2 linked regions of the Homo sapiens genome follow. The protein of the gene in region 1 interacts with the protein of each later gene in a pairwise test. Each region holds a gene or a part of one and is shown on either strand. Other genes may lie near its edges.

Region 1 (3,500 bases):
AGTGCCTCTCGCAACCGCAGTTCCCCATCTCAACTCTCGGGGTTGGAGGAGTGATGCTGCCTCCCAGGTAGTCTTGTGACTTTCAGAAAGTCCTTAAACCTCTCTGCCTTATTTTCCATACCTGAAAAGCCGGGATAACCTCAAGCCTACCTCACAGACAATAGCCTGGTGAGGATTAAATGAGTAAGTACAGCATAGAGCATCTAGAATAATACTTGATAGTATGAGCTCAAGGGATAATTACTGACAATACTATTTTTCTTCTCATTTTTCTTTTCTTTTCTTTTTTTTTTTGAGACAGAGTCTTGCTCTGTCGCCCAGGCTGGAGTGCAGTGGCGCCATCTCGGCTCGCTGCAAGCTCCGCCTCCTGGGTTCACGCCATTCTCCTGCCTCAGCCTCCCAAGTAGCTGGGATTACAGGTGCCTGCCACCACGCCCAGCTAATTTTTTTTTTGTATTTTTAGAAGAGATGGGGTTTCACCATGTTAGCCAGGATGGTCTCGATCTCCTGACCTCATGATCTGCCTGCCTCGGCCTCCCAAAGTGTTGGGATTACCGGCGTGAGCCACCACGCCCGGCCTTCTTCTCATTTTTCTAAAGAAATAGCTAGCAGGCATGATGTTATAGTCCCAGCACATACGCCTATGATCCCAGCACTTTGGGAGGCCAGGGCAGGAGGATCACTTGAGGCCATGAGTTTGAGACCAGCCTGACTAACATAGCAAGACCCCGTCTCTATAAAAAATTAATTAAAGAAAACAACCAAGGCCGGGTGCAGTGGCTCAAGCCTGTAATCCCAATACGTTGGGAGGCTGAGGTGGGCCGATCACCTGAGGTTGGGAGTTCAAGACCAGCATGACCAATATGGAGAAACCCCGTCTCTACTAAAAATACAAAATTAGCTGGGCATGGTGGTGCATGCCTGTAATCCCAGCTACTCGGGAGGCTGAGGCAGGAGAATCGCTTGAACCCGGGAGGCAGAGGTTGCAGTGAGCCAAGATCGCACCATTGCACTCCAGCCTGGGCAACAAGAGCGAAACTCTGTCTCAAAAAAAAAAAAAAGTGGGGGGGCGGTTTAAGAAAACAACCAGGGGCTGGGTGTGGTGGCTCATGCCTGTAATCCCAGCACTTTGGGAAACTGAAGTGGGCAGATCACCTGAAGTCAGGAGTTCGAGACCAGCCTGGCCAAAATGGCAAAACCCTGTCTCTACTGAAAATATAAAAATCAGCTGGGTGTGGTGGCAGGCCCCTATAATCCCAGCTACTTGGGAGGCTGAGGCAGGAGAATCACTTGAACCCGGGAGGCAGAGGTTCAGTGAGCCAAGATAGCACCACTGCATTCCAGCCTGGGTGACAGAGCAAAACTCCATCTCAAAAACAACAACAACAATAACAAAAAACAACAACCAAGCATGGTGGTACATGCATGTAGTCCTAGTATTCATGAGGCTAAGGTGGGAGGATCGCTTGAGCCCAGGAGATCAAGGCTGTGGTGAGCCGTGATTGCGCCACTGCACTCCAGCCTGGGTGACAGAGCAAGACACTATCTCAAAAAAAGTAAGGCCAGGCATGGTGGCTCACACCTGTAATCTCAGCACTTTGGGAGGCCGAGGCAGGATGATCACTTAAGGTCAGGAATTTGAGACCAGCCTGGCCAACATGGTGAAACCCTGTCTCTAGTAAAAGTACAAAAATTAGCTGGGCGTGGTGGCGGGCACCTGTAATCCCAGCTACTCGGGAGGCTGAGACAGGAAGAATTGCTTGAACCCGGGAGGCAGAGGTTGCAGTGAGCCGAGATTGCACCACTGCACCCCAGCCTGGGCAACAGAGCGAGACTTCATCTCTGAATGAATGAATGAATGAATGAAAATAATTTTAAAAAATAGAAATAAAGGAATAACCTACAGATGACCAAGAGACAGACAAAAAGGCACCTGAAAGCATAAGCAGTCGACCAATCATGGTCTGTTATTCTTTGGTAACACGGAACTCTCAAAACCAGAAAACAAGTCAGCAGACACATCTCAGAATGACAGGGGTCCTTGGTCTAAGACCCTAACTCACGGGTCAACCTTCTAACCCAGCACTTCTCAACTGAGGACAGCTGGCAATGCCTGGAGAGATCTTGGTGGACACACCTGGGGCAGGAGTGCTACTGGCATCAGTGGGCAGAGGCCAGGGATGCTACTCACTATCCCACAGTGCACTGCACGGCCCCCACAAAGACCCATCAATAGTGCTGGGGTTCGCCATGTGCCCATCTGTGAAGCAATCACTGAGAATCTGAAGAAACTCTAGACTCTGAGCCCTGCCATTACCAAGATGTGTTTTTCCAAAGCCACATCTGGTGACGTGTTTGCACAGGGCCATCCACACTCTCTACCCCTTAGTTGCGGGCCTCCATTTCCAAAATGGCCAGCCACACTGAGAGCTATAATCAGGACCTTCCTCCAAAATTGTCCACAAGGAAAGAGTTGACCAGGAGTCCCAGATTCTAAAATGGAGGCCCAGCTAAGTGACCTGGGACAAGTCACTTGGAGCCTCAGTTTCCCTGCCTGACAATGGGGTCACGGCATCCACTGGGCCCCTTCACATACCAGGCAGGAGGGGACTTCCCAGACCTGGAGACCATGAGTGTCAGGAAATGAACACGATCCAGGCCTTGGGAACTGAACTAAGCTATGAGCTCAAGCACATCTCCACCAGGGATGGCAGCCTAGTGGCCACTACACCAGCAACCCCAGTGGGGAGGGCACCCCACACCCACAAAAGGACGCTGCCTGCTTACTTGTCCGGCAGGGCACCTTCCTATAACAGCACCCAACTTTCACCCGGGAAACTACTTATCTTCTTCTCCCATCACCCATGTGGCCATCCCTCCACCGCCCAGGGCCACAGACTTAGCACACGGCATGGCGCTGCCCAAGCAGCTTCTCAGTGATTGGTTCACAAATGGGCATTCAACCAATCCCAGCCAATGAGGACTGAACCCAGAATGTCGGCTGAAGTACTGGGAACGAGAAACTCTCGGCCAGGCACAGTGGCTCATGCCTGTAATCACAGCTACTCAGGAGGCTGAGGCAGGAGAATCGCTTGAACCCAGGAGACAGAGGTTGCAGTGAGCCGAAATCATGCCATGGCACTCCAGCCTGGGCAACAGAGTGAAAGACTCCATTTCAAGAAAAAAAAAAAAAAAAAAAGAGAGACACTCTCCTTCAGCCAGGGTGGCACAGCCGGCAGGAAGCAAGGCTGGAGAATATAAGCCTGGCACTGCTGGTGAAGGGGACAGTCACCCTGAGAGTGACACCAATCCAGAGGAAGGCAGAATTTAGAGGGAAAAATACATGCCCCAAAACACCCTTTGACTCCTGGATCCAGTGATGCCTGAAGCAACTCCCAGTCCTGTCTTTTTCCACTGAGATTTCCATTCTCTGCTTCAGCCTGTTTTGAGTTGGACTTCTGTCCCTCAGAACCAGGGCAGCCCCCGGGCTACAGCTGCAC
Region 2 (3,500 bases), on another chromosome or scaffold:
CTACTTGTCCAATTTCCTTTTCCATTTGGAATCTTATATATGTTAGTCCCAGGACCCTGTCTAGGGAGAGGCCCTCCAGAAAGGTCAACTGAGAAGGAAGCTGATAGGGCATCTCCTTAGATTTATGGACATTTACATTAACAATATATGGCTCTGACTTTTATTCCAGTGGGAAGATGGTTGGGAGGTGAGGGCTTGGCAAGATCTTAGGAAAACCACACTCAGTGTGTCCCTCCTCCTCCCCACAGCCCTACCCTCCATCTACACTTCTTTCATTATTTCTATAAAGATGGAATATGGCTTAAATATGCATGAAGAGCAGCCTATATCAAAGGTTCCAGAGCGTAGCCATCAAGAACAATAGGTAGGCATGTCATAAGGATAAGAGCTGTTAGAGGTGAGAAGAGTCCCTCAAAGAAAATTGTGAACTAGGTAATAGGAACTCCCCCACCCCCGTGAACACTTAAATACACACTTGAGCTTGTAAGAAATTAACACTCAATTTAAGTGTGGCATAGTGGCTCATGCCTATAATTCCAGCATTTAGGGAGGCCGAGGAGGGAGGATTGCTTGAAGCCAGGAGTTTGAGACCAGCCTGGGCAACAAAGTAAGACCCCTGTCTCTACACACAAACAAATGAACAAACAAACCAAAAACCACACACAAAAATTAGCCAGGTGTGGTGGTGTGCACCAGGAGTCCCAGCTACTTGGGAGGCTGAGGCAGGAGGATGGCTTGAGCCCAGAAGGTTGAGGTTACAGTGAGCTATGTTAGCGCCACTCCACTAAAAAAAAAGGTGCCCACGGACAAGAAACAAATGCAAAGTAGTGGGGGAACTCAAGCTGAAGCTTCATAGAGGGGTTCTGGAGGGGAGTGGGGTGTTAGTCTTGGCACTGTGGAGGCTTTAATGCCCAAGGAAGGGACCAGAATTGAGGTATTAGACCTGGGATGGGAGGAGCATTGAAACTGAGCAACCAATAAAAGGATCATGGGATGAGGGGAGGGGAACTTTCTAATTATATCATCAAATATGAAATCATGGTGGAAACAGTATTTAGAATATAAAAATAATAAAATACATATTTAAAAAACATGGAGAGGGGACTTTGGATTAGGCAATGGTTTCTTAGACATCTAAAGCACGAACAGCCAAAGAAAAAGGCAAGTCAGACTTCATTAATATTAAAAACTTGTGATTCAAAGGACACCATCAAGAAAGTGAAAAGCCAACAAGAGAATGGGAGGAAATATTTGCAAGTCATATATCTGATAAGGGTCTAATATTCAGAATATATATGAAGAACTCTTTTTTTTTTTTTTTGAGATGGAGTCTTGCTCTGTCGCCCAGGCTGGAGTGCAGTGGCGCAGTCTCGGCTCACTGCAAGCTCCGCCTCCTGGGTTCACGCTATTCTTCTGTCTCAGCCTCCCGAGTAGCTGGGACTACAGGCGCCTGCCACCACGCCCGGCTAATTTTTTTTGTATTTTTAGTAGAGATGGGGTTTCACCGTGTTAGCCAGGATAGTCTCGATCTCCTGACCTCGTGATCCACCCGCCTGGGCCTCCCAAAGTGCTGGGATTACAGGCGTGAGCCACCGCGCCCGGCCAATATATGAAGAACTCTTATAATGCAATAATAAAAAACAAGTAAAAAATGGGCCAAGGATTTGAATGAGATATTTTCCCAAAGAAGATATACAAATGGCTAATGAGCACATGAAAAGATGCTCAACATCATTACTTATTAGGAAAATGCAAATCAAAACCACTTTGAGATACCACTTTATATCTACTAGCATGGCTATAATTAAAAAGCTGGACAATAACAAGTGTTGGAGGGTATATGGAAAATTAGGAATCCTCATACACTGGTGGTGGGAAGTAAAATGGTGCTTTGGAAAATAGTTTGGCAGTTTCTAGAAAATTTAAACACAGAGTCACCATATAACCCAGCAATTCTACTCTTAGGTATATATCCCAAGGGAACAGAAAGCATGTTCACACAAAAACTTGCCTGTGAGCTTCCATAGACATTATTCATACTAGGGAACAAGTAGAAACAACCCATGTGTCCATCAGCTGAATGAATGGATGAGCAAAATGTATTATATCCATACAATGGGATATTATTCAATTACAAAAACAAATGAAGTATTGTGACATGCTATCACATGAATGAACCTTGAAAATATGCTAAGTGAAAGAAGTATAGATACAAAAGGTCACATATTGAATGCTTCCATTTATGTGAAATCCATAGAGACAGAAAGATTAGTGGTTGTCAAGGGTTGGAGCAGGAGAGAGAAATGGGGACTCCTGCTAAATGGGATGGAGTTCCTTTTTGGGGTATTGAAAATGTTCTGAAATTAGATAATGGTGATAGGTTCACAGGCTTGGAATTATGCTAAAAACCAAGGCATCGTACAATTTAAAGAATGGATTTTATGGTATGTGAATTATATCTCAATAAATAGTAATTAAAAACCATGCAGGGAGCAAATAAAGCAATTATTAAAGGGCAATTTATAGCCTAACATATTTATATTGAAAAAGAAGATTAAAAATTAATGAGTTAAGCACCTTAAGAGGTTAGAATGAGAAAAACCCAATAAAAAGAAAAGGAAGAAATTTTTTAAGTTTTGTAAATTGTTAGAATCAGTAAAACCAAAAATAGGGTTTTTTTTTTTTCTTTTTTTTTTTAAAGGCCAATTAAATAGGCACCTCTGGCAAGGCAGACCAGGGAAAAGAGAGATGGCACAAATTGATGAGGTTAGTGTGAAAAAGGGAACATAACTACAGAGAAAATGAAGATTTTAAAAAGTCATTAAGGACATTTTCATACTTTCATTTTTAACTTAAATGGACAATTTCATGGGAAATATAACCTACAAAACCAAGTCAATATGAAGCCGAAAACCTGATTCAACTTAGAATCATTTAAGACATTTAATAAGCAGTTCAAAACCTATCTTCTAGAACCCTACATGATTTATACTGTCTTACGGTAGTGTTCTACTAAACATGCAAAGTGCAGATTGTTGCAATATTATGCAAATCTGTCCAGATAATATAAAAAGGGGAAACATGCCCTAATTTATTGTATAAAGTTAATATGATCTTGGAACGAAAGCTGGAGAATGATATTACGAGAAAAGAAAATTGGGGACCACTCTTATTTATGAACATAGAAACAAAAATAATAAAATATTAGCAAATAAGTGTTTTAAAAAATACAATGAACAAGATGAGTAAGAATGATTTAACATTAGATAATCTATTAATACATATTACTATATTATTAAAGAAATGGTACAATTTTGTAGCTATAGAAAAGTCAACAAAATTTAATGTTCTTACATAATAAAAATTTAGTACACTAGCAACGGAATGAAAATTCCTTAACTTGAAAGGAAATCTATTAGAAAAAGTATATTAAACGTTAAACTTAATGGTAAATAGAGGGATTTTCTTTAACAAGAGGAATAAAGCAAAGATAGTCATTA

The links. The genes of interacting proteins can lie anywhere in the genome.
Region 2: the proteins of TMEM120B (region 1) and SLC10A1 interact in binary tests that used the Homo sapiens proteins (3 or more experiments, as listed by UniProt).

Annotation. Positions count from the first base shown.
Region 1 is NC_000012.12:121,743,752-121,747,251, reverse strand, and holds part of TMEM120B (transmembrane protein 120B), read right to left. Parts: intron 1-3,500. UniProt on the Homo sapiens protein: Necessary for efficient adipogenesis. Does not show ion channel activity.
Region 2 is NC_000014.9:69,787,242-69,790,741, forward strand, and holds part of SLC10A1 (hepatic sodium/bile acid cotransporter), read right to left. Parts: intron 1-3,500. UniProt on the Homo sapiens protein: As a major transporter of conjugated bile salts from plasma into the hepatocyte, it plays a key role in the enterohepatic circulation of bile salts necessary for the solubilization and absorption of dietary fat and fat-soluble vitamins.